Regions from separate parts of the Homo sapiens genome. Here all the other regions are linked to region 3. Evidence: fine-mapped expression QTL. A gene starts in region 3. Each other region holds a variant in brackets. All regions are shown on one strand. Distances are between the middles of the regions.

The links. PIP is the estimated chance that this variant, and not a neighbour inherited with it, causes the effect.
Region 1: its variant is fine-mapped to the expression of NXPE3 in whole blood (INTERVAL, PIP above 0.99).
Region 2: its variant is fine-mapped to the expression of NXPE3 in monocytes (Fairfax 2014, PIP 0.95).

What each region holds. Positions count from the first base shown.
Region 1 is chr3:101,824,526-101,834,740 of GRCh38, reverse strand. It overlaps NXPE3 (neurexophilin and PC-esterase domain family member 3), which reads right to left. Exons shown (of 8, transcript NM_145037.4): 8 at 6,510-10,215. It also overlaps a transcript of NFKBIZ not described here. Among named protein-coding and RNA genes, the nearest start is that of NFKBIZ, 20 kb to the left of the region's middle. RefSeq lists enhancers at 5,195-5,254, 6,697-6,876, 7,027-7,076 and a silencer at 7,844-7,923. The variant T/A (reference allele first, on the strand shown) is at 8,000.
Region 2 is chr3:101,726,061-101,737,026 of GRCh38, reverse strand. It overlaps CEP97 (centrosomal protein 97), which reads right to left. Exons shown (of 11, transcript NM_024548.4): 2 at 10,291-10,433; 3 at 9,486-9,644; 4 at 8,090-8,191; 5 at 5,074-5,187; 6 at 4,373-4,539. Among named protein-coding and RNA genes, the nearest start is that of CEP97, 6.9 kb to the right of the region's middle. RefSeq lists an enhancer at 10,935-10,966. The variant AG/G (reference allele first, on the strand shown) is at 5,834.
Region 3 is chr3:101,774,350-101,785,315 of GRCh38, reverse strand. NXPE3 (neurexophilin and PC-esterase domain family member 3) reads right to left here and starts at 6,105. Exons shown (of 8, transcript NM_145037.4): 1 at 5,992-6,105; 2 at 3,026-3,206; 3 at 2,536-2,656. RefSeq lists enhancers at 5,383-5,432, 5,997-6,291 and a silencer at 5,843-6,192.

The DNA.
Region 1 (10,215 bases), 50 kb before region 3:
CATGGAAAGAGGGGAACTGTTTAGAGATTTCACACATTTAATCTATAGGCAAGAGACTGAACACAGAAAGACAGGGGAGGGGCCGGGTGTGGTGGCTCACGCCTGTGATCCCAGCACTTTGGGAGGCTGAGGCGGGTGGATCACCTGAGGTCAGGAGTTCGAGGCCAGCCTGGCCAACACAGTGAAACCCCATCTCTTCTAAAAATACAAAAATTAGCCGGGCGTGGTGGCGGGTGCCTGTAGTCCCAGCTACTCTGGAGGCTGAGGCAGGAGAATTGCTTGAACCCCGGAGGCAGAGATTGTAGTGAGCCAAGATAGAGCCACTGCACTCCAGCCTGGGTAACAGAGTGAGACAGGAAAGGAAAGCGAAAGGGAAAGGAAAAGGGAAAGGAAGGAAGGAAGGAAAGAGAAGGAGAGAGAGAGAGAAGGAGGTAAGGGAAGGGCAGGGCAGGGCAGGGAAAAGAGAGATGAGGGTCAGAGGTAACTCCAAGGCCTTGAGGATAATAGTGGTGGCACAAAGAACAGAAACAAGAAAGCCAGCTGAAGGAGAGTTGGGGAGGTACCAAGTCTGATTTTAACCTTCACATTCTGTTCCCTGCACTGCTCCTGCCACTCTACCTCACCCCTTATCTGCACTCTGATTGGGGCAGTCTCTGTGCCCTACTTATCCAGTAAAATTTCAAGAAAGAATCTAAAAATTAATTCCCACCAAGGCATCAACAGTAACCCTTCTTAAAGGTTATTTGCATTTTAAGAGAGGCTCCCAAAAATGAACAACCATGAAGTTTGGAGAGCCAACAAACCTAAGTGAGGTATGGGGTGGAGAAAGCATGTCCTTTAACATTATTATCACCACCCAGTCCACCTCCTGCCTGCTTCAATTTGGCTGCAATCTGTCACTCTGCCCTAGATTTTGACATTACTGTTGGGTTTAACAATCCCTTTCTTATCTAAATGCTGGATACTGTTCAATACTAGAGGTAAACACACAGAACTGTTTTCATTGGCTGTTTACAAGATACGAAACCTTACCACAGAAGAGCAGGGTTGGGAAGGTCCATGATATATCAGCCTCTGCCATCTTTCAGACAGCTCATCTCTCAAGACACTAGAAATGCCAAGGGTAAATTTGGCAGCCTTGCCCAGTGATCACTTTCAGTTTCCAAACTCTTATCTTCCACCTCAAATTAAACGCACCTCCTTTTCCCATAGCAAAGATACAACATAGAAAGTTCTTATGGCCTTCAGAACAACTTTTCACAGCTGTTATGATTAAAAAATAAATCATCATTTCATTTTTTTTCCACCCTGGGTTATTTGTTCAACCAAAATTTATGAAGTCACCCTGTGCTATGCTACAGAGGTGAGGGAATGGGTGTGGAAGGGGAGGAGAAGGGTAAAAATCAGAACTCACACAATTCCTATCTTCAAAGTGTCCTCAGTTCATCTTCATTCACAAGACCTAATCCCCACATCTATGGATCACCTTTGTAGCTCTGGCCCTTTTAAACCTCCAGCAAGCCTCCCTAGGTTTAAGATGTGGAACTGCATTGCCAGCGGTCCAAATTTCCAAAAAGATCTGACCCACATGGAATCTAAGTGCATTACCTCAATGATTCTCATAGGAGTTATTCTCAACCATGCACATCTTCATAAGTGTGTGCACTGTAGTATGTGGACATGCAAGGGTGAATAAATAGGAGACAGTGTTTTAATAGTGGTGCCGAATCACTGCGCAGATTTACTCAGAACTTCGTGTCATTTTCTATCACATATTCATGGTGTACGCACTTATTCACTGCACTGTGCCAAATACTGCACAAAATGAATTAAAAACAAATTCATCATGGTGCATCCACTGTGTAGAATAGTATGGCAGTTCCTAAAACAATTAAACATAGAATGACTTGATATATCCCCAAAAGTAAAGAAAGCAAGGATTTAAACAGATACTTGTACACCCATGTTCACAGCAGCATTATTCATGATAGCCAAAAGAAACAATCCAAGTGTCCATGGACAGATGAATGGATAAACAAAGTGTGGTATGCACACCTACACACACGCTGGAATATTATTCGGCCTTAAAAAGGAAGGAAATTCTGACATTTATACAACATGAATGAACCTTGAAAATATTACGCTACATGAAATAAACCAGTCATAAGAAGATAGGTATTATATGATTCCACTTACATAAGGTATGTAGAGTCATCAAATTCATAGAGACAAAAAGTAGAGGGGTGGTTGCCAGGGACTTGGGGGAGGGAGAAATGTAGAATTATTGTTTAATGGATATGCAGTTTCAGTCAAAGGGAAGATGAAAAAGTTCTAGAAATGGGTGGTGGCAAAAGTTGTAATATGAAAAGTACTTAGTGGCACTGAACTGTACACTTAAAAATGGATAAGATGGCAACTTTTATGTATCTTTTATCACAATTTAAAAATATATATTTAAAGTATTTAAGGATATAATCAATAAAGCTTTCCTGAAATAAATATGAAGCCAGGCATGGTGGCTCACACCTGTATCCCAGCACTTTGGGGTCCAAGGTGGGAAGATCCCTTGAGGCCAGGAGTTTGAGACCAGTCTGGGTAACATAGCAAGCCCCATCTCTACAATAAAAAATAAAAAAGAAAGAAAGAAACAAAAAAGAACAAAGAAGCTTGGCATGCTGGCATGCACCTGTAGTAGTCCCAGCTACTGATGAGGCTAAGGCAGGAGGATCACTTGAGCCCAGAAGGTAGAGGACACAGTGAGCTATGATCATGCCACCATGCCACTGCACTCCAGCTTGGGTGGGAGAGCAAAACTCTGTCTCAAAAAAAAAGCAAAACTTTGGGAGGCTGAGGCAGATGGATCACTTGAGGTCAGGAGTTCAAGACTAGCCTGGCAAACATGGTGAAACTCCACTCTACTAAAAATACAAAAATTAGTTGGGCGTGGTGGCATGTGCCTGTAGTCCCAGCTACTCAGGAGGTTGAGGCATGAGAATCACTTAAACTCGGAAGGCGGAGTTTGCAGTGAGCCAAGAAGGGGCTACTGCACTCCAACCATGGGCGACAGAGGGAGATTCTGTATCAAAAAAAAAGAAAGGAGAGAGAGAGGAAAAAGAAAAAGAGGAGAAGGAGGAGAAGAAGGAGAAGGAGAAAAAGGAGGAGGAGGAGAAAAGAGAAAAGAAAAGAAACTAAAAACGTTGTTCCCCCTCTGGAAACCAGTACTTTTAAAATCCATGAAAAATGAGGATGTAGACACAAAGCAAGACACAAAAAGACAACAAACCACAGAAAAATCTTTTGACCTCAGTTGAATAAGTACATCCAGAGCATTTACAATGACATGTCTCAACCTTTCTTTCAGTATTAGACCCCACTACAGGGTCTTTTTAGACATCTTTTTCCTAATCATCCCCTGATGAAAGTTTAATATCACAGATATACTGTATATCTATTATGTACTATGGCCCTTTGGGGGCCACAAACTATTGTAATAGCTAAGATTTTTCCCTGAAGAACCTATTTTTGCCCTCTTGGAGATAATATCACCCTCTCTAAGAACGCATGATTTACAGTATTAGACCCTCTACAGATTCACAGTACTAGGCTGTCTAGCAAACTTGACTGAAACAATCAGAGGAATGGGGATGCACATAAACTACTCAATGCTAAAACATATCCAAAAGTCTTCTACCAATATTAAAAGTGCCTGCATGTTGCTAAATATCTGAACAAACAGTGAAAAAATCATTTTTAATGTCTCCAAATATCTGGAGGTTGGCATTTTATAGATATAACATCTAGGTAATTAACAGTATTTTGATAAGTTTAATTCAGATATTTGGTATCATGTATAGAGAATGTAGCATTGTGATTATTGTTTAATATAACCATGACAGAATTCACCATTTGTCGTGGTTATATTTCCCATTCTATCAAAAAGACACATGCACCTGTATGTTCACTGCAGCACTTACTTACAATAGCAAAGACATGGAATCAACCTAGATGCCCATCAACAGTGGACTAGATAAAGGAAATGTGGTACGTATACACTGTGGAAATCTACACAGCCATAAAAAAGAATAGAATCATGTCCTTTGCAGCAACATGGATGCAGCTGGAGGCCATTATCCCAAGTGAATTAACACAGGAACAGAAAACCAAATACCACATGTTCTCATTTTTAAGTGGGAGCTAAACATTGGATACTCAAGGACATAAAGATGGCAACAAAGACACTGAGGACTGCTAGATGGGGGAGAGAGGGAGGAAAGCAAGGGCTGAAAAATAACTATGATCAGTACCTGGGTGATGGGATCAGTTGTACCCCAAACCTCAACATCACGCAATACACCCAGGTAACAAACCTATACATGCACCCCCTGAATCTAAAATAAAAGTTGAAGTTACAAAAATAAATAAATAAAATAAAGCTAATTACAGCTACCTAAAAAATGCTGTAGGGCTAAATGAGATCTTGCTGGTAAGCTCCCAAAACAAGTGTTTAATAAGTGTTAATTCCCAATCCACTAACTCCATCAGCGGCAGTAAATATTTTCATTCCCTACGGTTGAAAGGAAGGTATTTTACTTCACAGACAATCCCAAATTAAAGGAACAGAAAGTGCTTTAATCAGAAACCACATATGCTAGTTTTAAGGAGCCTCTTCACCAAAACTGAGAGGGGGCATGATGCTCTCCAAGCCTGTTAAAGATTACATAACCCTGAAACTGTCAGTAAGCAGAGAGCTGAATTCCCCTCTTAGATGTATTCATATGTCCTCTTGCTATGGAAAATAGCAGAAATTCAACAAATTGGTTTAAAAAAATACTACTAAACCACACACACACACACACACACAAAAAATCTTAGTTCTCATGAAATCACAGTAAAATGCCTATAAATAAAATTCATAGTAATTTTGTAGCAACTTCAAAAAAATGTCTAATTTAAGAGAAAAATCTTAGAAAAATCCCACTGCCCTTTTTGACATCAGCCAGAAGCTAGGTAACACCTGGATGCTACTTGTTTAGAAATATCAGCCCTTCTCACCCTCGAGAGTTCAGCATCAGGCCAAGAAAGCCAAAAGGTGAAGTTCAGCCAGGGCCCTCGAGATCTTCCTGTTAACCTGGGAGAAAAAAATCAAGAGGCCTCCAGATCAGTGTCAGCTATGAGCCAAAAGAAAATGGTGTTTTCAGGAGCAATTCATTATTGGTCTCAGAACAATTAGAAAATCTTTCCCCTCAGTAATGCTTTCCATGGCTCTGTAGCTTCTGAAAGGGTTTGTTTTGCTCTCTGAGAGCTTTCTTGTCTTGTCTGTTACAGGACAAGAAAGAGAAGGGTTTGCCTCCTCTTCCTCAGTGAGGAAAAGTCTGTATCTGAACAGCTGGATTATGCTGACCTCGGTCATCACCTCCACACTGGAGAGGATGCTGCCAAATGTTTCCGTCATCTGCACTGTGCACTGATGTCATGTGCTAACTCCTCTCAGACTGACTCTGCCACCGCAGTGCTCCACGCCTGTACCCTGCCCAACTGTGTCTTTGGCCTCAGCAGGATGATGTTAGAAAGACGGTGGAGAGGGGTGGTGGACCATACACCGTATTCTGAGGCCAAATAAATAAACAGGCAGGGTTATCTGCCTGTTTAGATGATCTGTGTGGCTGATGCCCTGCTCCATCAGGGATTATGCGGGGTGGTGAATGAGACTAGGATAAACTTTTCTCTCCTTTTATTGTCTAAACAACCTACTGTCTAACAGAAGCAAAAAAATATTCCACCCAGCCAGATATTTCTTTAGATGTCAGATTTAAATAGAGGAAATATATATTACCAAATGCTTAAAATTTACGTAACTGTCATCCTCTTTGGGACAGCACCTTCAGCCACTGCAGCGAATTCACTAATCCCAATGAAGAGAATCTCTAATCCATTCTATTTAGAAATGTGCTTTTATTCAAACAAAACCCCTTAACATATACAGATTATCATGAATCTGGGGGTCCAGCCAAATCATCAAATTTCAGGTTTTCCTCATTCATAAAATGGCCATTCATACATTTTAATTTTACAGCTGTAAGAATGAATGAGGGCATGCTATAAAGTATTTCAATTTACTCTGATATATTTTCCCATATAGTTTCATGCCTACGGTTGGTGGGAAAGTACTCCTCTAAACCCACACATCAAATCTCCTGGGAGACTTCTGCCTCGGGATATCATAGTTCTAGGTCACTGACAGAAGATAGTGTTACATTAGATTTATGATACTTCATCACCCATTCTATCGATCTCCTCCATTAGTATCTCAGTCCTTCCTGGGCCTTTAAAGCAAACAGACATGATTCTTGCTATTACTAAACTACAAAAACATCCCAGATTTTCTTTCTCCAAAAAACTATCCCCCAATATTTTGCCCCAAAGCAAGTATGGCTACTCAAACATAGGAGAGTGACTCCAAAGTTAAGAATCTGACTATGGGAATAGGAAAGAAAAAGAAAAAAAAAATCTTACCATTTAAGATATTTTAATAAAATATCAGATAATAAAAATATACCTTTGTGTTTGAAGAGTCAAGTCACACAAATACGTAAGAGCAAATCAATTGTTTCCAGCTGTAATCAGCGATAATAACCCAAGTACGTGACAGCATGAGAAAGACGATCAGTTTCCTTTTGAGGTTACATGATAAGCAGCAGCTAAGCAGCCTTTTTCTCTAAGAACTCGCCGTCTGACCTCGTGGCAAGAGGAGGCCAGCCCCTCTCACTGGCGCCCTTTATAGCGTTCGCTTTCAGTTCTCCACTCTAGTGAGGACGGGGGCGGGGGAAGCTAAGAGCCTGTTTTCTAAAATGCAGAATACGGTCATCCTCTCTTTCGAACCGGGTTGCGTGGGCACTGAGGAGGGCCAGAGGAGGCAGGGAGGGGGCAGCGAGGCCTAGATTTGTGGATTTTTTTTCTGCACACTGGAAATTCCCAGACCAAAAAGGTACCGACCCGAGTCCCGGACATTCCCCTCGAGGGCCGGCTCCAAGACCTGGACTGGAGCCGCAGGGAGGAATCAGAGGCAACATCTACAAACAAAACTTTTTCCTTAAAGACGTCCTTTTAAAATGTCCTAGTGAATCTCCTGATGGGCATTAGAGTTGCCTTCTCATTAGATTCACCTCATCTTATTTCGCTTTTTCTGTGTGGCCCCTAAACGTGAGGGTGCAGTGGGCGGGTGGAGGGAGTTACCTTTTACCATATAGCTTTTACAATACGGCAATCAAAAAGTAGTATCGCAATCATGTGCCTTCACTGACTAATTAAAGGACAAGAAATCTGTGACATAAATAAAGCAATGGTCCTGTAACATGAAGATCACTTTATTTTCAAGGAGTAAGGGGAATGGTAATGGGGTAGATTTAACAGCAAATGAACCACTGCACAAAACTGAAAGGATTTCTCCTATGACATTTAGTTTCACTTCTTTTCCATTTAGGACACTAGCTGCTGTAATCTCGGTACTACTTTTTTTTAAGTTATCTTCCCCAAGCAGTGTTACAATCCAGCTGGAATGGGCATTAGATATACACATCATTAGACTCTTAAAAAGAGGCCCGATGGCCTCTCATTTAACCAGAATATTAAAAAAGAAAATATATGTACACACATATAAATATATTTAAGTTCACACTTTTTTATTTTTTATTTATTTATTTATTTATTGAGACAGAGTTTCACTCTCGTTGCCCAGGCTAGAGTGCAATGGCATGATCTCGGCTCACTGCAACCTCCACCTCCCGGGTTCAAGCGATTCTCCCACCTCAGCCTCCTGAGTAGCTGGGATGACAGGCATGTGCCACCACACCTGGCTATTTTTGTATTTTTAGTAGAGATGGGGTTTCATCATATTGGTCAGGCTGGTCTTGAACTCTTGACCTCAGGTGATCCGCCCACCTCGGCCTCCCAAAGTGCTGGGATTACAGGCATGAGCCACTATGCCCGGCCCACATTTTTT[T/A]AAAAAGTTAAAATGTAAAAGCACTTTTAAGAGACAAGTTAGACAGAAGGTGGTGGAGTACATTTTCTGCTCTCCTAGCTTCTGTGTCCTTTAAACTCCTGCCCTCAACCATCCTCTTATCGTCCACCACCTCCATTCCCCTAGGATTCCCAGGTCCCCTTAGCACTCAGGGGCTGTGGTCTCACCTTCAAATGAAAAACAACAACTTCAAAATTTTATTTATTGCACACTGAGGTGTCAAGAATCCTAAGTACACTAATACTACATTGTAGACATAAACCAGGTAGAATAATGCTTAACACAAGAAAATAAATACACTTGAAGTGGAATTTCTGGCATTAGTGACTAGCTGATGTTAAAAAGCTGAATTTACCCAGAATCCACAGAGATAATGCTGAGCAGTTTTTTAGAAAGTTGGGGAGGCTTATTTCTGTTGTTTCCCTTGGGTGTTTATTTCCCTGTACCTCTCTCAGTCATCACTATTTCCTTGAACAGGGTCCAGAAACAGACTCATTTCTGGCATGTAACACATGAATATATAAAGGCGTACCATATTTATTCTTGTCAAGTACCCTGATTTACCAATCTGCAAACTAAGTTTTCAGATTGATAAATGTGAAACTGGATTCAGTTATTAAACTGGATCAAGTTTCAATCTGAAACTTAATAACTGAATCCAGGAAGTGTCAGTTAAATGGTCTTAATTAAAATGATAGTTGTTCAGAATGGCAAAATGAATCATACTGGAACACCAAAGGTCTGTTTTGCATTCGCTGAAGAAAGGTTACTTTTAGTAGGATAATTCTATAAAATGTAACTTGCATAGAAAGGCTTTATTATGGGTTCTGTCTGTCACAAATAGCATCAAATCAATCATCTCAGTTCTGGAATATGAGATTCACTACATTAAATTAATACTTTCATTCCAAAATAGAAATTCATATTTTAAACCACTGAAATTGATATAAACCACTGCTTTAATATTGTAAACCTAAATGTCCAACTATAATGACCAACTTATCTAATAATGAAAACTGCAGTAGCAGAACTATTAAGCAGATCTTTATAATTAACTTATGAAGACTATTTAACATAGAAAAATATTTATATGTAAAAAACACAGACCCAAATTACATATTCTCTATAAGTATATGGTTAAAAAACCTGCAAGAAAATATACCTAAATGCTAATGTTCATTGCATTCAGATGATAGAATTATGGATTTTATCCATAGATTTTTCTTCTAGATTTTATAGTTTTTAAAAATTATGATGCCCCTTATATTTATATTGGGAAATATACATTTAAACAAACTATTATTTGGCTACCATGCTAATATTCACAACCATGTGGCACTAGCCTAAAATAAACTTTTCAGAAGAAACTAAATTATTCTATCTAAATATTCTGGGAAACGTTTAAGTGATATTGGAATCTCTATCAAAATTTCCACACCAGAGTGAAGAAAGACAAATTAGATGTGGGATGAAAGTTGTTCTCACTGATAAGTGAGAGCTAAATGATGAGAACACATGGACACATAAAGGGCAACAACACACACTGGGGTCTATTGGAGGGTGGAGGGTAGGAGGAGGGAGAGGATCAGGAAAAATTACTAATGGGTACTAGGCTTAACACCTGGGTGATGAAATCATCTATACAACAAACCCCCATGACGTAAGTTTACCTATGAAACAAACTGGCACATGTACCCCTGAACTTAAAAGTTGTTAAAAAAAAAATTTTTTTAAGAGAGATGAAAGTGACTCAAGAAGCTGTGTCACCAAATCTTTGAGAGCTATGTCACCAAATCAAAAAATAACAGAAAACCAGACAAGATCATAAGAAATCATTTGCACAATCAAGTGGCATCATTCCAAACCACTGGAGGAGCAATGCCCGCTTTCTTTTTAAAATTCTCCTGGGAAAATTACTCCTCAGCCTCCTTTATAAATCCTTGAGGAAATGTCAAGTTCTTTCACGACAAGAAAAACTCTCAGCTGGGCACAGTGGCTCACACCTGTAATCCCAGCACTTTGGGAAGCTGAGGTGGGCAGATGCTTGAGCTCAGGAGTTTAAGACCAGCCTGGACAACATGGCAAAATGTAGTCTCTACAAAAAGATACAAAAATTAGCTGGGCATGGTGGTACATACCTGTAGTCCCAGCTACTCAGGAGGCTGAGGCAGAAGGATCCCTTGAGCCCAGGAAGTCAA
Region 2 (10,966 bases), 48 kb after region 3:
GTGCTGTGTTTTGCAGCTCCATCAGGTCATTTATGTTCTCTCTAAACTGGTTATTCTAGTTAGCAATTCCTCTAACCTTTGTTCAAGGTTCTTAGCTTCCTTGCATTGGGTTAGAATATGCTCCTTTAGCTCAACGGAGTTTGTTATTATTCTGAAGCCTACTTCTGTCAATTTGTGAAACTCATTCTCTGTCCAGTTTTGTTCTTTTGCTGGCAAGCAGTTGTGATCCTTTGCGGGAGAAGAAGCACTCTGGTTTTTGGAATTTTCAGCCTTTTTGCACTGGTTTTTCCTCATCTTCGTGGATTTATCTACTATTGGTCTTTGATGTTGGTGACCTTCAGATGGGGTTTCTGTGTGGATGTCCTTTTTGTTGATGTTGATGCTATTCCTTTCTGTTTGTTAGTTTTCCTTCTAACAGTCATGCCCCTCTGCTGCAGGTCTGCTGGAGTTTGCTGGACATCCACTACCTGTTTTCCTGGCTATCAACAGCAGAGGCTGCAGAACAGCAAAGATTGCTGCCTGTTCCTTCCTCTGGAAGCTTCATCCTAGAGGGGCACTCACCAAATGCCAGCCGGAGTTCTCCTATATGAGGTGTCTGTCAACCGTTGCTGGGAGATGTCTCCCAGTCAGGAGACACGGGGATCAGGGACCCACTTGAGGAGACAGTCTGTCCCTTAGCAGAGCTCAAGGGCTGTGTTGGGAGATCCATCGCTCTCTTACAGAGCCGGGAGGCAGGAACATTTAAGCCTGCTGAAGCTGCACCTACAGCTGCCCCTTCCCCCAGGTGCTCTGTCCCTGGGAGATGCGGAGTTTTATCTATAAGCCCCCTGACTGGGGCTGCTGCCTTTCTTTCAGAGATGTCCTGCCCAGAGAGGAGGAATCTAGAGAAGCAGTCCGGCTACAGCAGCTTTGCTGAGCTGCAGTGGGCTCTGCCCAGTTTGAACTTGCGGGAGATTTTGTTTACACTGTGAGGGGAAAACCACCTATTCGCACCTCGGTAAAGGCAGATGCCCCTCCCCCGACAAGCTCGAGCATCCCAGGTCGACTTCAGACTGCTGTACTGGCAGCAAGAATTTCAACCCTGTGTATCTTAGCTTGCTGGGCTCTGTGGGGCTGGGATCCTCTGCGCTAGACCACTTGGCTTGCTGGCTTCAGCCCCCTTTCCAGAGGAGTGAACGGTTCTGTCTCACTGGTGTTCCAGGCGCCACTGGGATATGAAAAAAACTCCTACAGCTAGCTTGGTGTCTGCCCAACGGCCACCCACTTTTGTGCTTGAAACCCAGGGCCCTGGTGGCGTAGGCACTGGAGGGAATCTCCTGGTGTGTGGGGTTGTGAAGACCATGGGAAAAGCGTAGTTTCTGGGCCAGAGTACACTGTTCCTCCCAGCACAGTCCCTCACGGCTTCCCCAGGCTAGGGGAGGGAGTTCCCTGACCCCTTGCACTTCCCGGGTGAGGCAACGCCACACCCTGCTTCTGCTCACCCTCTGTGGGCTGCACCCACTGTCTAACTAGTCCCAGTGAGATGAGCCACGTACCTCAGGTGGAAATGTAGAAATCACCCGCCTTCTGTGCTAATCTCACTGGGAGCTGCAGACCAGAGCTGTTGCTATTCAGCCATCTTGCCAGCCACCCCCCCACACACTTCTTTAGTGCAGGACAACCCCAGAGAGAGAGGCTACCCCAAGTGGGAGCCCACTCTTCCCTATCTCCTGAAGTCTCTGAAATTAAATGTTTGCAAAGCATTATGGAGAAAGCTCAAAAAATATTCAAATTCACCTTAAAGTCACTTGGAATAAAACCATTTCCACAGTATAGAAACACAGACTTTTTTATCATTATTTATCCAATCAACAAATATTTTCTGTCTTGACACTCTCTTTAGTTTCAACAAACTCTTCAACCTTTAGTCTCTATCCTTATATAATATCATTTATTAAGCACCTACTATATGACCAGTCCTATGTTCTATACATCATCCTTAATCCTACCATCCATGAAAGCAAGGTAGTACCGCTATTCACATTTTACAGATGAGGAAACTTAGCCTCAGAAAAGCCCTAAGGAACTTGACAAGGCCACACAGCTAATAGATAGCAGAGAAAAAAGTGAAGCCTTCCCCTGTCTATCGTAAGCAGGTCTCATCTCTCTTTGTGGGTCTCTCTTTACACCAAACCTTTATCTCTGCCCACATCACCATGCTGCCTCTCAGACATGAAAATGTTGCCAGTCCTACTCCCACAGAAGAAGTCAACAACTGTACAGAGGATTATCCAAGTAAACCCATATTCCAAATCTAGAACTAGTCACAGTTTGAAACAAAATAAGGTTTATTCTCAGAGCAACATTCACAGCAGGAAAAAGAAAAGCCACCCTTTCCTGTAGGCAAACTAGACCTGACATATGTCCCTCACCCTACACCAGCACCACCACTATCTAGCTCTTGGCTGCCATTCCTCACGGCCCTGTGCTTTACTCAGAAACTATACAAAACAGCAGAGAGACAGAGAAGGGAGACGCTGTCTGTAATCTACCACCCGTCCTCCCATCAGGAAACTCCTGAAGTAACTACTGTCTGTAGTAGAGAAGAACAAAAAAAGGCGAGGGATAATGTATGTGTTGAGTCCATAATGCATGTGTGTATGTACTGAGAGAAAAAAGTTAAATGAAGCATAGTAGACAGAATAAAGTCATCTCAACTCTCACTATCCCAATTCCACTCCCTCCTTCCCATATCCTAGTTCCTTACCTCCCCTAAAGCTCTCATTCCACTGATCAGGTATCAGGGTCCAGAAGACTCCATTCTGCAGGGATCCCAGCTCCAAGCCACAGAAACTATTAATGATTTACAGGTGGGGGAATTCTTGCTTCTGCTGCTTCACAGGTATAAGAAGGGGAGAACCTGGCCAGGTGCAGTGGCTCATGCCTGTAATCCCAACACTTTGGGAGGCCGAGGCGGGCGCATCACCTGAGGTCAGGAGTTTGAGACCAGCCTAAACAACATGGAAAAACCCTGCCTCCACTAAAAATACAAAATTAGCTGGGTGTGGTGGCACATGCCTATAATTCCAGCTACTTGGGAGGCTGAGGCAGAAGAATCGCTTGAACCCAGGAGGTGGAGGTTGTGATGAGCAGAGATCGCGCCATTGCACTCCAGCCTGGGCAACAAGAGTGAAACTCAGTCTCAAAAAAAATAAAAAGGCTGGGCGCGGTGGCTCACGCCTGTAATCCCAGCACTTTGGGAGGCCGAGGCGGGTGGATCACGAGGTCAGGAGATCGAGACCATACCGGCTAAAACGGTGAAACCCCGTCTCTACTAAAAATACAAAAAATTAGCCGGGCGTAGTGGCGGGCGCCTGTAGTCCCAGCTACTCGGGAGGCTGAGGCAGGAGAATGGCGTGAACCCGGGAGGCGGAGCTTGCAGTGAGCCGAGATCCCGCCACTGCACTCCAGTCTGGGCGACAGAGCGAGACTCCGTCTCAAAAAAAAATAAAAAATAAAAAAATAAAAAAAAAAGAAGAGGAGGACCAATCACCACATCTGCTACTAGTTCCAAATTAAAACTCTGCATTTTCCCAGAGTTATCATTATAATGAGTATTTGGAGAATTCTAAGATACTACTAATACTGCCCTTACATGGCATTTGGAGCTGGATGATAAAATAGAAAATAAAATGAATAAAAAATACGGCCCTTATATATGTGATAGATTAATATATTACAAGCTTTTGTGAGACTGATCTGAGATCCTACACAGGATCTATAACATGATGGTTTCTAAGCAAAAGTGTTCCAAGCTCCAAACAACTGATTAACAAAAGAACTTTTAGAAATCAAATTGTTGTATGTAGGGCACTAAGACTACTAGCTCCAATCTCTGGGGCCGAGATTTCTTCTTTTTTTTTCAGAGACAGGGTCTCACTCTGTCACCCAAGGTAGAGTGCAATGACACAACCATAGCTCACTGTAACCTTAAATTCCTGGGCTCAAGCAATCCTCCCACCTCAGCTTCCTAAGTAGCTAGGACTACAGGTGTGTACCACCACACCCAGCTAATTTTTTTTTTTTTTTGAGATGTGGTCTCCCTATATTGCCCAGGCTGGTCTCAAACTCCTGGGCTCAAGCAATCCTCCTGCCTCGGCTTTCCAAAGTGCAAGGATTACAGGCATGAGCCACTGCACCAGGCCAATATTTATTTCTTATCCTTTTTTAGAAATGACAGAAAATCCTAAATGACCAGCATATAGTCTGCTACATGACTGCACTAATACTCTTGTTATCTAAATGCACATTTTAAGAAATACTCTATTAATCTGTAGTAAACTAGAAATGGTCTTTTCAGTAACATTTGTGATGTTAAAGAGCACATGTTTACCTTTCCTTCTGAGAAATCACATATCCATCTAGGACTCTGAGGTTTAGGCACCAGCTGACGATGTACGGCCGATAGTCAAATCCTGGGATGGATGGTGTTGCCATCACACAAGGATTGTTCATAATCGACAACTGTTCCAATTCAGTTAAGGATGCCAAAAAAGAGATCTGGAACAAAAGATATCTTTGTTGAACAAAAGGACTATTCAGTGTCAAGCACAAAATTTCCACTGATTACATATCTTTGGCAGCATTTGAGAATGTGATAATTTCCCTCTTGTTCTGAAAAGTGACAAGTGTCCATTGACTTCCAAAGTTTCAACAATATAGCCATCTGTCCCTGCTGCACAAAATCCCCTGGCAAATATCAGCACTGTTTCCTAGCAGAAATAACCCTATTTTGAAAACATCACAGCAGCCAGGAAAGGTGGACAGGGAGTCTTATAAACCCTTATAACGTAGATGTCCCTCTACCACCAATCGCCTCCCAGTGGAATGATAATTACAGCTTTACAAAGGAAATTAGACCTTAATGACCCACTGACACTAAGGAAAAGTGGAAAGATCTAGAGCCAAGCATTTCATATGAATGGCAGTTTCTTCCAAGATGCTCACAGTCTAAAAGTAAGCTCACAACCCTCTCCTGTGTCTTTCCTAGGATTTCCAGCTTCCTGAATCTCACAAAATACCCTCAAATTTTACCTCATTTAAGTCTCGGATTTCATTTTCTGCCAAAGAAAGTATAGCAAGACTTCTGGGTAGGTAAGCAGGTGCCATTCTAAGAGAGGTGATGATGTTTCCATGTAAAAGCAGGGTCTTGAAAGTAAAAACAGTATGAATTACAAATGAAAAGATTACAAATAAATTGGCCTATTGTGACAACACCAAAATGGTACATATAAGAATAAAGGAATCTACTTTATTATATTTCTCATCACACACAAATCAAAGACTGTTAATGCTACAAGGGTCCTTGATGATCTTCTGGTCCAACTCTCTGTTTTCATACCAACATCCTAAGCTCATGATATTTTAAAGACTTGTCCAAAAACACATGCTTGGCATAGCAACTAGGCATGCTGTGAGATTTAACTTATGAGACACTGAGCAATTTCTAACACACTTTTTCATTTTCTTTTAAAATATCAAAATAGAGGCCATGTGTGGTGGCTCATGCCTGTAATCCCAGCATTTTGGGAGGCCAAGGAGGGAAGATTGCTTGAGCCCAGGAGTTTGAGACCGGCCTGGGCAACATAGTGAGACCTGGTCTCTACTAAAAATCAAAAAATTAGCCAGGCATGATGAGGTGCACCTGTATTTCCAGCTACTGGGGAGGCTGAGGTAGGGGGATCACTTGAGCCCAGGAGGTCGAGGCTATAGTAAGCCATGACTGCACCACTGCACTCGAGCCTGGGTGACAGCAAGACTCTGATGTCTCAAATTAAAAAAAAAAAAAAAAAAA[AG/G]TCATTAAAACAACCACATATAAAGCAAATTTTCCAAAAAAGAGAGTGATAACCTACATCCATAATTGCAACTGTATTCTCTAGGTAACTAAAAAATAAAGGGAGGTAGAATGTGTTACTTGCAGATAAAGCTGACTCACATTAAGTCAGCAACAACCAAGAATAAACCCAAAACTGAACACCCAGGATTCTGATCAGATAAATAGGCTTCTATTCCAGCAAAAAAAAAAAAAAAAATTCAATCATCTTTGGTTCATTTGAATTCTCTTAGCATCTATTAGGACAACATCTGGCTACATCAAAATGTTTAGAATAATTATTGCTAAAAATGATTTCTGCTAAAGATCTGGGAAAAAGTGAACTAAGATACTGCTTCTAGGGCTTAATGAACATATCTGATGGTAATAATATCCAATGAGGCAACAATATTTAAAATGTTCTACATGTTTTTCAAGACTGTGATTTCAACTGTTACTTATTTGACTGCATGATACATTCCCCTCCATAAAAAGTGCTACATGCTACATGTTTTTTTCTAAGTGAAATTAATTTTGACAATTAGCTAATACCTATTACTTTAAAAACAGCAATTCTGAATGTCAAAAAAAAAAAAAAAAATCCAGACTTGGGACCCAGCGCAGTGGCTCATGCCTGTAATCCCAACACTTTGGGAGGCCGAGGCGGGTGGATCACAAGGTCAGGAGTTCGAGACCAGCCTGGCCAACATGATGAAATGCCATCTCTACTAAAAATACAAAAATTAGCTGGGCGTGGTGGCATGCACCTGTAGTCCCAGCTACTCAGGAGGCTGAGGCAGGAGAATCGCTTGAACCTGGGAGGCAGAGGTTGCAGTGAGCCGAGATTGCGCCACTGCACTCCAGCCTGGGCAACAGAGCAAAACTCCGTCTCAACAAAACAAAACAAAACAAAACAAAACAAAACAAAACAAAACAAAACAAAAAAACAGACTCGGCCAGTTCGGTGGCTCATGCCTGTAATCCTAGCACTTTGAGAGACTGAGGCAGGAGGACTGCTAGAGTCCAGGAGTTTGAGACCAGTCTAGACAACATAGTAAGATCTCATCTCTGGCCAGGTGCAGTGGCTCACGCTTGTAATCCCAACACTTTGCGAGGCCAAGGCAGGAGGATCATGTGAGGTCAGGAGTTCAAAATCAGCCTGGCCAACGTGGTGAAATCCTGTCTCTACTAAAAATACAAAAAATTAGCCAGGTGTGGTGGTGGGCGCCTATAATCCCAGCTACGCGGGACGCTGAGGCAGAAGTATCACTTGAACACAGGAGGCAGAGGTTGCAGTGAGCCAAGATTGCACCACTGCAACCACTGCTTGGGTTGCAGTGAGCCAAGATTGCACCACTGCTTGGGTGACAGAGCAGAACTCTATCTAAAAAAAAAAAAGAAAAGAAAAAGATCTCATCTCTACAAACACTCAAAAAATTAGCTGGGTGTGGTGATGTACACATGCCTATGGTCCTAGCTACTTGGGAGGCTAAGGTGAGAGGATCACTTGAGCCTGGGAGGTCGAGTGAGATTGTACTACTACACTCTAGCCTGGGTGACAGAGCAAGACTCTGTCTCAAAAAAAAATAAAGACAGACTCAAATTCAGGAATGATTAATCTCAACCTCACCAAAGATTATGTACTATATAATAACTGAAGTTACTAATATTGGTTGATTGGGCATACAGGGAATTCCATCATGTTCAGAGAATGGTAAATAAAATTAACCTTAACTACAATGACCAGTTTCACATCAAATAAATGAGTTATATAACTAACAACAAAAAGTTTCAAACTTAATTTCTGGTATTCTAACATAATTCCTTTTTTTTTTTTTGAGACTGAGTCTCACTCTATTGCCCAGGCTAGAGTGCAGTGACCCAATCTCGGGTCACCACAACCTCCACCTCCTGGGTTCAACCAATCCTGCTTTAGCTGAGTAGCTGGGACTACAGGCTCGCACCACTATGCCCCACTAATTTTTGGTATTTTTAGTAGAGATGGGGCTTTGCCATGTTGCCCAGGCTAGTCTTGAACTTCTGAGCTCAAGCCATCCACTCGCCTCAGCCTCTCAAAGTGCTGGGATTACAGGCATGACCCACCATGCCCAGCCCATAATTCTTATCATAAAGAAAGCAATCTGCTCATACAAAGCAGGCTAATTTTAGGTCAGTAAGATTACTTTCTCTTGGTATTTTGCTATAAAACTTCACAAATGACAAAGAAAACATACTTACTTTCAGGGATACCAATTTAGATAGATCACCTATCTGGGATATATTATTGTCTGATAAATCGAGATGCTGTAGAGCTGTGCAGCTATTGATCTGTTCCATGGCCTATCACAAGAAAAGCATCACACTATTTAATGAAAACAAAATCAAAAAATAAAATTATTCCCTAGTTCTTTGCAGCTGAAAGAGTGTCTTCCCTCCTCTTATTATTAGAAGCAGAGTAGAAGAACTTAGCAAGAGAAAAGGGGCAGTACTAACAGAATTTAGTAGATTGTCAGGTTGTAAACGTACACTTTCATTATCTCTCTATGAGTAGAGGGCTACCAAGTAGTTCATACCATCCAAGATCTTTACAGCTTGAAAAAAAACATAGTAATGGCCAGGCGCTATGGCTCACACCTGTAATCCCAGCACTTTGGGAGGCCGAGGTGGGTGGACAGCCTGAGGTCAGGAGTTCGAGACCAGCCTGGCCAACATGGCGAAACCCTGTCTCTACTAAAAAAATACTAAAAATTAGCCAGGCATGGTGGGCAGGCGCCTGTAATCCCAGTTACTCTTGAGGCTGAGGCAGGAGAATTGCTTAAACCCAGGAGGCAGAGGTTGCAGTGAGCCAAGATCGTGCCACTGCACTCCAGCCTGGACAATAAGAGCAAAACTCCATCAAAAAAAAAAAAAAAACAAAAGAAACCATAGTAATAATATATGACAGTTGGTGGTATAGAATAGAGTTTACAAGTTTAGATTAAAACCAAACAGCCTGGATTTACATTCTGGCCCTGCAACTTCCTAGCTGTGTGACCTTGAGCAAGTTACTTTTCTGTGCTTTAGTTCCTTCACCTTTATAACACGCATAATGTCTATATCTACTTCGCAGGCTACCATGAGATTGAATAAGTTAATACAGATAAATGTTTAGAACAGTAGCTCAGATACATTAATGGCTCAATAAAAGGCAGCTATTGGTAATCTAGTCCTCTCAGCTAGCATGCCAAAAAATAAGACGCAGAAATATGTATTAATTTACCCAAAATTACACAGTTACTAAGTAGTGCAAGTAGGACTAGAATTCAGATCTCCTAACTTTTAAAACTGTATATTCTCCCTTATAGCATTAAACATTTACTTAAAGCTTAATTCAGCATGATATAGTCTCCCTCCTAAACACTCTATGGTTTGATCTACTTTTTTCTAAGTACAATATAGATTCTTTGTTCAAATTTAAAAGAATATTATGTCATATTATATGTTTCAAAATGAGATTTATTTTTAGTTTATTTTAACAGAGATTATCCCTGGAGAGTGGGAGTGGGTACTTTCACTTTTTAATTTGACTTATTTCTACATTGCTTGAATTTTTTTTACGCAGAATAGTTTTGTAAACAAAAAAGAAACCATTCACCTTAAGATTATTTCCTGCCAAATTCAGCCATTCCAGATGTACTAGTTCCTTTAGCCCTTCCACACAGCCAATGCTATTATGAGGCAAATTTAATACACGAAGCAACGTCAGCTTGGCCACACCCATCATCCGAACCAGCCGATTATTAGCTACTGATAACTGTAAAAAGGAAACATATTGTTATTTTTAGGAATAACATATATAAAATATTTCACATTAAAGTGATTTAAAAGGTTTATTTAGACAGCCAAACACTCTCAAACAAACTCCTTTTGTACATTTCACATATATTGTCTAAATATTCTACAGTATGACTATCAGTTTTTTGTTATTGTTCCTGGGCAATAGAAAATACAGATAAAGCTGAGCGATCAGACCTCCTCTAACTACTAAGACATTTTTAACACAGCAACAACTTGAGAATGTAAGTTCCACAAGAATAGTGCTGTTAAACTCTCAGTCAAAACTTAATACAGTGCCAGACATATAAGAGGGACGCAGTAACCATTTCTTGAATGAAGGAATGAATGAACTCTTTACCCCCATCATGAGGTAAAAGGTTACCTTAGTAACACAGTATTTTGCAAAATAAAATGCTTCCTTTTCTTAACAATGCTTTTTTTTTCTAATCTACTCTCAATGTAGTACATGTATGTTCATCTTCAGAAGAAACTGTCATGTAAAAATTTAAGGCAACAATGACTGCTTGCTAGGGCTGCACAGTTACTTTTTGTCAGGTTATTTTATTGTTTTGTTTAATAATAAATTGATCCTATGTAACCATTTCCCAGATTGCAATACCTACCTGTATTAATCGTTTGCATTTCTCCAGATTTTCCAATTTAATAATCTGATTTTTATCCAGAATCAAAGTGTGAATATCAGCTTCACAGGGTAAATTTGGACCTAATTTCTGTAGTCCCTGTCCTGACCAATTGACCACTGATCCTTGAAAAGAAACGGAAATGTTAGAAAACACAAATAAAATAAAACATGTACAACAGCTAAGCATAGGGCTGGAATTATAAAATCTCTATACCATTTCAAGTTAAAGAACAGTAGAGCATAATAAATATCAACATTGTAAAATTAAAGCAATCTTGAGTTCTAAATGACCAGATTGAATTACTCATTTTTCTTCAGAAATATCAAATTAAAACTAGACGTGTGATATTCTCCTCAAGTTGCTAAGATATACTTTGAAAATTTTCACATTTAAATATGGACGATTACTTCCATTTGTTGTGCCTAAGTAATGATACTATTGTTTAAATGTTACTAAACTTTTGACTGCAATCCACCAGCTTACAGCCTAACTACCAATATATCCTAAAGTGCCCAAACTGTGATTTTGAAAATCAAAGTATAGTTCAACTAATTCTCCCATAAAATAGGATAATACACCCATTTCCCTAGCTTGATATGAGAATTAAAAGAGAAACCATATGAATAGTACTTAGCCCCGTTCCTGCCACCGGGCA
Region 3 (10,966 bases):
AACCTTATCTAAGGCCCAAAGTCACAAGGAGAAAGCAAAGAGCCAGAGCACAGTAACGTCTTTTCATTTCCAGACAATCTCCTCAAAGTTTCCTTTCCCAGTGTCAGGCTTCCGTGTAAATACAATATTTCCCCTATTGCCTATTTAGGTTTTAACTTTTAAGAAAGTAAGGAAGTATGTCTTCAAACTCAGAAATTGTGAAATAAAAGTAACTGCTAAATTTCTACAGAGACCTCAGTCAATAAAATCACTTCCCTTCCCCTTCCCTTTAAGTTATGTAACACTGCTACATTAATTACACTTAAAGAACATGAAGAGGAAACTGTTTTCATGAAGAGCTCTGGGATACTGTGCAAAGCATCCTGACATTCTCTGGCAAACAAGAAGTGCTACCCCTCTCATACAGAGGTATGGCAGGAGACGCGACACACTCTTTAGGTTTCCAGCTCTCCCCACCACATATGTGGTCCTGATGCTCCCTCAGCTACATGATAAGGCACAGGAAGACACACACCTGCCTGGAAGATGTGGGAGAGGAAAGTCAAGCTTGAAAAATGGGTAACAGGATCCCAAAATCCTTCATCACACCTGCTAGAGGCAGAGGACTTCAGAGTCAGCAGTGCCTAACTGTTCTCCCACGTAACAAATTCAAATGCTCTTTCCACTTGCCATTTTGATACAGGTAAACAGAAAATGTCCTAGTATTCTATCCCCAGGGAGACTTTCCATGAAGGGCAGGACACAGAAATAAAGGCAGAAAGGGTACAAAATCATGGTGCAGAGTATCTCAGAATAACTCAGCTGCATCAACTCTCCCCTCCACTTTGTGTTGGACCTGGCAAGCCCCCATTCTCTCACTCCTCTGCCTCACCTGTCTGAACCAGTCCCAACCACAATGACAATGCCAATCAGCTTCACAAAGGAGACAAGGGTGAGCCATTCCAACAAGCTCTCCATCCTCAGAGTTCCCATAGCACTTATTATTTTCACTTCTCTGCTGATCTCTATTTGTATTTTTTTCTCCCTCATGCTCCCTCTATTTGTATTTCTTATCTCTCAAACTAGACTATACCAATTATGACTGTATTTTTTTAAAAAACCATATATCAGAGAAAAGCAACTTAATGATACTGCATTATACTTTTCTGATTTGCTCAAGGTACTTAGTTCTTTACATGGTACACAATGATTCAACAATCTATGCAACAAATAATTATGGAGGCCTACGCTATACCACACACTGTACTAAGTGCCAGAAATTCCCCTTGAAAAGCTTACACTCATATTAGACAAGATGTCAGCCCCTTCTTAAGGAGAAATAAATCCACCAGTCCTGGCCACCTCCACAGGGATGCCAGGAAATGTGAAAGACTGTGCTTCTCCATTTCCTGACACCTCCTCTCTCCAATATCCAGACACTCATCCACCTCAAACTGTCTATAACTTCTTGGAAGAAACTGGCTGTAAAATAGAGGATAACTCTGTCATCAGGGTCCCAACTGTTCTGCCATTGAAATCCTTCTCAAAAAGTTGTCCATAAAAAAAAAATCAGGTTTCCACAATGGCCAGAGAGGGAAAAGACCAAAGATGGTAGTCCACAGGAATTTAGTTGCACCATAGGCAGGTGTGGTCATGCATTGTGTGGACACTAGCCATTTAAAGGACATCAGTGTGGTTCAGCCAGGCAGCAGCAGCACACAGCTGTCAGTGATGCAGAAAGAAGGCAAGGGCAGGAGACTCTAAAGCAAAAGAACTACAGGACCAGAGGCAGCAATGCAAGAAGTCCCTCCCAGCTAGAGGCTTCTACTGACAATAATTTAGGAGGATTGTGCCAGGAAAAGACCTGACTCTGTGCTGTAAGTAGAGCACTGACATTTGAGAGACCCATTTGTACACCTAAATAGATGTTGCGTGAGGCACACTAGACAGACCTCTCTTTGAAAAGATATATACCAGGCCAGGTGCAGTGGCTCACGCCTGTAATCCCAGCACTTTGGGAGGCCGAGGCAGGCGGATCACAAGGTCAGGAGATCGGGACCATCCTGGCTAACATGGTGAAACCTTGTCTCTACTAAAAATACAACAAATTAGCTGGGCGTGGTGGCGGGTGCCTGTAGTCCCAGCTACTCGGGAGGCTGAGGCAGGAGAACAGCGTGAACCTGGGAGGCGGAGCTTGCAGTGAGCGGAGATCACGCCACTGCACTCCAGCCTGGGTGACAGAGCGAGACTCCGTCTCAAAAAAAAAAGAAAAGATATATATTAAAATTTTAATAGTTGTCACCTCTTGGCAGTTTTTGTTTTCTCCTTTATCTGTATGTCCTAATTTTTCACCAGGAAATAAAAATCACAAATACAAAGAATAAAGCTGGGCCAGGCATGGTGGCTCACGCCAATAATCCCAACACTTTGGGAGGCCAAAACAGGAGGTTTGCTTGAGACCAGGAGTTTGAGACTAGCTGAGGCAAGATAGTGAGACCCCCAACTCCACACACACAAAAAATTTTTTTTTAATTAGCTGGGCATGGTAGTACGCACCTATAGTCCCAGTTACTCAGGAGGCTGAGGTAGGAGAATTGCTTGAGCCTGGGAGGTCGAGGCTGCAGTGAACCATGATCATCACACCAATGTACTCCAGCCTGGGCAACAGAGCAGGACTCTGTCTCAAAAAAAAATGAAATAAAATAAAGAATAAAACCAATTTCTAAAAGTAAAAATTAAAGATGAGACATAGCAGAAACAAAGCATTAAATCACATCTGTGAAATCAATTCAACTTAAACTGAAAGATTTTTAAGTAAAAGAAGAAAACTATTTCACGGCATGAGGTAATTGTAGTGTAAAAAAAAAACTGTAACAGGTTTTTGGTATTTTCCTATAAACATAAAACCTACGCATTATAACAGGAATGCTATTTGCAAGGAGCCTTAAAATCAAGTAAGAACAACAGTGTTGGCAGGGAATGATTATAGAAAAAAGTTCCTCAGATTAACCAAAAAAATAAAAATATATAATTCAATGTAATTTACCTTTTTTGGAAATTTTCCAAGAAGAGATGCTTACTGGAACTAGAAATTAGAAGTTACGTCTAACTTTCCTTCCAGCATGAAATTCTGAACTCAGGCAATTTTGACCAGAGGTCCTCATTTTTTTCATGCCACATGTGAAGCACACATAAATGTTTTTTACATTTCTATACAATTCTTCTTGCTGAAACAAAAATATGCATATGATATAAAGGTTAAAGATACTGAAAATGAAGTAAAGAAAAACATTAGAAATTAAGAGTACAATTTTACAGGCAAGAGAGTTATACATGATATAGTGGGAGGAGTGGGCATAGGAACGTTTCCTTTTCCTTACTAATAAAAAACAGTAATTTAAATAGTCTATTTAAATACATGAACTTCAACATGGTAAATCACTCTCAGACCTTGGCTGAAGGTCAAAACTTTATAAACAGCGATATAAGTGAAAAAATATAAACCAAAGATAAAAGCTCCAAATGTTATTTTTCTTAAAAACTATTATAATTATTTAGTTCAATGATCCAATGATCTTGTTTTCCCCTACAGAAAAAAGGGGTATCTGTACAGATCTAAAAGTTATTATTCAAGGAATCTAAACTTGAGTGATCCTGTTTTCAAATGTCAGACCACCACTTACTCATGCTTTATTTTTATAATATGTGCAAAGAACAAGCAAAAAGTTAAATGCATGCTCTGCCTTACATGTGGAACCCAGTATTTGTTGGAAGTGTTCTGCCAAATTTTTATTAAGCCTACTTCCATATCCAAGACTCATAGTGGCCAATCTAACTTCTTTATGGCCTGTGACAACAACCCCAGACTGCCATTAGGGTTCCTACCCCCATCTCACAAGAGAATTACAAAGCAGTCACTTACATCATTTGGAATTACAATTGTCAGTAACACAAATGAAATTCCTGAGTTCAATATTAAACAAAGAAAATCAGACAGCAACCCTATCCTCTGGGGAGCTAATGTTCTCAGGCAACCATTCCACAAAGATAATATATTATAGGACAACTGCATAGAAACTGTCCAGTTTCTGAGGCAGTCCCTATCCTAACTACTCTGACCTGTTGGCCAAATAAATGTAACTGTACTAGTCACAGCAAGTGTCTGGAACTTTAGTTCAGAATATATAGTTCAGAACAATAGTAAGAGACAAAAGCACAGATTTACATGGAAAATATCTACACTTAAATGCATATATTTCAAACTTTGCAAAGAGTAGCTGTATTTCATAGGATGCTGAGTAAGACCTTGAAACAGGGCAGGATCTACAGAATGAAGAACTGGAGACCCATCCAGGACCCTAACAATGATGGGTTAACCAAATAGGGTCAATCCTTGAAAAAAGATGAAGCAGGGGCAGTAGTCTGCAGGACTTGTTTCCACAGATTCCATTTCTCCTTCGTGTCCCGCAGCCTCACATGCACAAAGTGCTGACTCATCTGGACCTTCCCTTGCCCTTCTTCCAAAGCAGGGCCCCATGTATTCATGGAGGTTACATAGCAAGTGGAGAAGTAATAAAATCAGTTATATAAGTCACACTGTACTAAGTGCTATTTTTTAAATATTGAACACATTGATAGGTTGTGGTCCTCAACCCTGCATGAACATTAATAATCATCGTGGAAGCTTTTTAAAATACAAACAACTGGGCCCCACTCAAACAATTAAATCAGAATCTGTAGGAATAGGCCCAAGAAGTAGCTTTTTTTAAAAAGGTCCCTAGATGATTACAACATACAGCCAAGTGGGAGAACCACTAGTATAGAGTGGCCAGGGACTGTTATTCGTTTCAGTTGGTAAAAGGATGGCCTTTCCAAAATGATGTTTGAATTGTAACTTAAATTGTCAGGTCAGGACAACCCAATTCCCAGGCAATGGGGAAGGCTAACCCCACTTCAGTGATTTATCCCTTCGTTTCCTTTCTCAGTAACAAATAACAGCACTCTATTGGCCCCAAAGAGATTGTGAGGATAACAGACATGGAAAAAAAAATACTAAACAAATTCAAAGAAAAGCAGAACCCAAACACTACGGAGAAATAGTATACTGCTGCCTCCAAACAATTATCAGGGTCTGGGAGTCCTGCCAGTTTCAAATATATCCTGATGTTCCAAATGATAATTAACCACAGTGAGGAGCGGGGAGGCCCACCAAAGCAGTGTGATTCTTTATCTTTAGGAAATGTGGCAACAATCCCCCTTTAATGTAAATAATGAAAAGCAAAGAAAATTTACAATTTTGCACAAATGCTGCATAAATCCTGCCTCGGAACCCCTCTTATTACCACCCTAGTGGCCTTTGATCAGGCAGAAATGGGCAACAGGCCAGGGTCTCCATATCACACCTTGTAAAGTTACACTCGTTTCTCCCCATACGACCTGAATCTGATGTCCCCAAACGGCAGCTCAGTAAGGCCAGAACAGTCCACCGTGTGACAGCAGCGCCAGCCAAGAGGCAGCTGGTGCCCAGAGCAGCGATGAGCCGAGAGATATGAGATGGGCAGGGAGGCGTCGCCAAGTGCTCCGCACCGGGTTAGTGAAGGTGCCTGGAGGACAGAAGTCTTTCGCTGCGGCGTGGAGGTCCGAACTGTACCGAGCTGTGGCGTTGCCGCAAGTGGAGGAAACTGAGGATGGAGATGCTCGCTCCCGGCCCCGCCCCGCCCCGCCCCGCCGGTACTAGCCTGGGCTCCGGCTTCTTAGCTGCGACGCTTTGGCAACCCAGGGCTCCAATTCTGCCTATGCCTTCGACCCGGGCCTCCCCTCCCTGGCACCTATGCCCACAGCCACGACTCCAGGGGCTGCACCTATCAGCACGGGGCTGGGGACTCGGGAGCAGATGCGCGCGGAGGGAGGGGCTTCGCAGTCTAGGAGCGCGCTGGCAGAGCCGGGCAATGGGTCGCTCCGCCCGCAGCGGCCCCTCCCGACGTCCGCACACAGACCACATCCAGCACTCACCTCCGGGACCCGCCCGCCCTTCGCTCTCCGGGGGCCAGGGATCCTGACGCCCCGGTCGGTCGCCGCAGCGCCAGGCCGCTAGCCCCCCGCTTCCTCACCCGGCGACGTCTCCTCACCTCCGACCCCCGGCTACGATTGGTGGAGCTTCGGCGGGGGCGGGCCGAGGGCGTTGACTGACAGCAGCACGCGCCGGGCGGAACCCACAGGCCTGGAAGCGAAGTTGGCACCCTGGCGCTCTACGCCGCCAAGCTCCTGCTCGCGACGCGACACTGCAGCTGTCGCCCCGCGGATCGAGGTCTGGCCCCTCTCACGACCCAACTCCTCGTGAACTTCGGACGTCTGAGTTTCCTGGGAGCATCCACCTACCTCAAGGCTTTTCGCTTGTCAGCGAAAGTGCCCACAACCGCAGTTGACTCTAGTAGGGCAGTCTTTCCTGTGGAGTGATGGAATTTATTGTGCCCTGAACCAGAGAAATGCGATTTGCCAAGTATAAGCACGGATATAGCGGATCCTTGAATCTTTTCCTTGCTTTGACATTAGTCAACAACTTCTACTCGCCAGTAAAACAGCCCGTTCCTTTTACTCTCACTGTACATGATGTCGGTCTCTTGGCAAAGCATACTTTCCTCACCCTCCACCATCCCCAATTCTGGGTTATCCTATTTTGGACATTTTTCTAACTGGTAAAACGTCGGTAGCAGTTTTGTGAAATTCAGGAACTGAGAGGAGTCCTGAGAAGACACTTGTTCAAGAAACCAGAAGGAATTGTGGGCTGCACCGTGTTTCTCTGTGCTTGGAGCACAGTGGGGTTAACACAGGCCCCAAAAGCAGGCCTGCCCCCGGACTATTACCCCAAGGTTTAAGAAAAATAATTAATGTACATGACAACTAAGTATTTTTCCATTTCTTGACCATAATGGACTCTGCATGCTCATTCAGATGTTTTCATGGCAGGCCTGCTTCGTGGGCAACCAGATCCGTGAATGGGATAAAAGGAAGTTCTGCCACAGGGTGGAAGATCTCTTCTGTAGTAATGATCTTCTTTTTTTTTTTTTTAATATACTTTAAGTTCTAGGGTACATGTGCACAACGTGCAGGTTTGTTACATATGTATACATGTGCCATGTTGGTATGCTGCACCCATTAACTCGTCATTTACATTAAGTATATCTCCTAATGCTATCCCTCCCCCCTCCCCCTACCCCACAACATGCCCAGGTGTGTGATGTTCCCCTTCCTGTGTCCAAGTGTTCATTTATGCAGCCAACAAACACATGAAAAAATGCTCATCAGCACTGGCCATCAGAGAAATGCAAATCAAAACCACAATGAGATACCATCTCACACCAGTTAGAATGGCGATCATTAAAAAGTCAGGAAACAACAGGTGGTGGAGAGGATGTGGAGAAGTAGGAACACGTTTACACTGTTGGTGGGACTGTAAACTAGTTCAACCATTGTAGTAATGATCTGATACTCCTTCTTCCTCGAGGAAATACAGCACTCTGGGACCTTTTGAGGACATAAAAGGGTAGCTTCCTTCTGCTATCGAAGAAGAGCCTCATATACTAGACTTCTGCTCTGATTATGCTTTATCTCCCAGTAGGATCCCCCGCCTCATGTACAGCTTGGCTGTCTTACAAGTGGTAAAATACTTAGGACAAGATGACTTCTAGGTCATGGTTTTGGACCTCATTGACCCCATTCTCCCCCAAGCACTCATAACCCTGAGGCATTTGAGTGATCTTACCTATATTTACCTATATTTTACAGTCATAACCACAAATAAGAGCAGCCACTGCACTCCAGCCTGGGTGACAGAGTGAGGCCCTGTCTCAAAAAATAAAAAAATGTTTATATGATGATATGAAACCAAAGGAACTGGTCATTTCTGCCCCATCTGAAAATGTAGTTTACACACTAGTGTTTATTAATGCTAAACTTGATTCTCTAAGCAAAACAAAGCATAGATCTTAAGAGTAGACAAATAAAAGCAAATAAACCTGTCCCTGATGGCAGAAGCTTGAGGCACAAGCACATTAAGTATTTTTATATTTCTTGACCACAGTGGACTCTGTGTTCATTCAGATGTTTTCACGGAGGCCTACATGCATACTCCTGAGCCCAAGTCAGTTCCTCATTCAGTTCCTTTGCTTCCTCCCTTTGAACAAGTCACTGAAATTTGGGCCCCAAGGCCATCTACCTACTGAAAATTAAGTGACCACTGTCACATTAGGTACCAACCACTCTGTTCCAAAACACCATGAACAATTGGAGGAGGCTGCCAAGGGTAAGAGACTGAAAGTGAGTGAAGTAGTTGATGTCACTACTGCGTTGGTCCATGCTCTCAAATTAATGGACATATTTTCCTTTTAAAAGTCATAATTGGCCAGGCGCGGTGCTCATGCCTGTAATCCCAACACTTTGGGAGGCTGAGGCAGGTGGATCTCCTGAGGTCAGGAGTTTGAGACCAGCCTGGCCAACATGGTGAAACCCCGTCTCTACTAAAAATACAAAAACATTAGCCGGGCATAGTGGCAGGCGCCTGTAATCCCAGCTACTCGGGAGGCTGAGGCAGAAGAATCGCTTGAACTCGGGTGGCGGAGGTTGCAGTGAGCCGAGATCACGCCATTGCACTCCAGCCTGAGCAACAAGAGCGAAACTGTCTCAAAAAAAAAAAAAAGTTATAATTAATGATGGCTAATCTCACATGCATAGTTTAGGGAAAAATGAGATCAATTTTTTTTTCCTCCACTCTTGATTTCTGCAGTTCAGTAGTCCTCAAATCAAATTCCACTGATAATCAAAATAACATCAGTAGCATTTTTTTTTTTTTTTGAGATGGAGTCTCACTCTGTCGCTCAGTCTGGAGTGAGGTGGCAGAATCTCGGCTCACTGCAACCTCCACCTCCCGGGTTCAAGCGATTCTTCTGCCTCAGCCTTGAGAGTAGCTAGAATTACAGGCGTGTACCACCACACCCAGGTAATTTTTTTAATTTTTAGTAGAGACAGGGTTTTTTACCATGTTGGCCACGTTGGTCTCAAACTCCTGGCCTTTCAAGTGATCCACTTGCCTCAGCCTCCCAAAGTGCTGGGATTACAGGTGTGAGCACTTTGGGAGGCCGAGGCAGGTGGATCATGAGGTCAGGAGTTTGAGAGCAGCCTGGCCAATACGGCAAAACCCCATATCTACTAAAAATACAAAAATTAGCGAGGCGTAGTAGCACACGCCTGTAGTCCCAGCTACTCAGGAGGCTGAGGCAGGAGAATCGCTTGAACCTGGGAGGTGGAGGTTGCAGTGAGCCGAGATTGCGCCACTGCACTCCAGCCTAGGAGAAAGAGTGAGACTACATCTCAAAAAAAAAAAAAGAATATTGATCAGGCATTTTGTAGACTACCCCTCAACTTGAATTTGCCTGGTGTTTGTTTACTCATGGTTAGACTCGGGGAAAGAACACCAGAATGAAATGTCTTCACTGCATCAGATTAAGGAAAATGTGACATGATTTATCACTGGTGATGTTAACCATGATCATTTGATTGAGGTGTTATATGCTACGTTTCTCCGCAATAGAGTTGCTAATTTTCTTTTTCCATACTCCATCCATTAGTAGCAAGTCACTAAATCCAGCTCACACTCAGGAGAGGGAAATTAAGCTTTATCTTATGAAGGAAGGAGTATCAATGAACTTTTGGGTACATGTTTAAACCACCATAATAATCAATATATATTTAAGGGAAGATACTTTGAAGCTACACAAATATTCTATCTCTTCTTATAGTTTTGCCCACTAATTTAGGTATTCATCGTGGATTTCTGTTGTAGCAATTATTATAGTGGTTTTCGAATGGTGATTTTCCTATTTCCTTCATTCTTTCTGCATTTATTATTTGGAAGTCTTCTCTAAGAGTTGTCCTTCTGTACCCTGAGAGGATTAAAAACTTAGAAAAAAAAATGAAAGAGTTGCCCCTTCTTCTCCAGCTATTTATTCAATAATTTACATCAGGGTGCACTCATGGATATTTATTTTATTCCTTGATTTATAATCTGTTGTTATTTTGCTGCTCAAATTATTTCAGCTTTTGCCATTGGGACCTCTTTCAGGTTGCTTCATGTATCTCTTTTACATGCTTGATCATTTGTTTGCTTATCACTTCCTTACTTTCTGGCACTTAAGATGTTCTGGGATCACTTTTTTTTTCTTTGCTCCGCCCCTGGAATCAACCATTTCTCCAAAGAGCCTTGTTCCCTTTTATTGAAGAATTGTAGAGACCAAGACATGAGTGCTATGTATGCTTGTTGCTACTGAAGGATCATTCTTTCTAGGCCTGTACAGAGCTAAAAATGTACATGGGTATACTAACCCATGTATAAACATATGCACTGTATCTTTATATATACATTTACATTTATATAGACATACATGTCTATATTTACTTCCATAACTACCTGTGTAGACATGAGTTCATATTGATATCTCCAACTCCAATCCAGCACCACAGGGTTCATTCCTGCATTTCTCCTTTGCATATTTGTAATTTCTTTTTCTAACAGTGAGATAGCTGGCCATGATTATCTATATTTACTTATTTGTTTAAGCCTAGTATAGATGCAGTTACAGAATAGACAACCTGTACCCCTGTAAGAAACATTTACCAACCAGAGTACAGTGTTCCTATACAGTTCTTTTTGTCTCTAGCTCAGTGAGGTTATGTCATAAATTTGTAATACAGTTGGTGTCATTTGTCATAGTCCACATTCCATTCTGAGATCCCCTTGACATCCTCAATAGAGATTTATTTTTTGGCAAAACTTGAAAAAAGTTCAGACTTTGTGATGTATTGTTCTATGGATTTTGACAAGTTTGTAGACAAACGTATCCACCATCACAGTACCATACAAAATAGTTTCACCCTAAAAATTCCCACATGCAAGCCCTTTTTAGTCAATCTGTTCCTCAATCTCTAACAACCA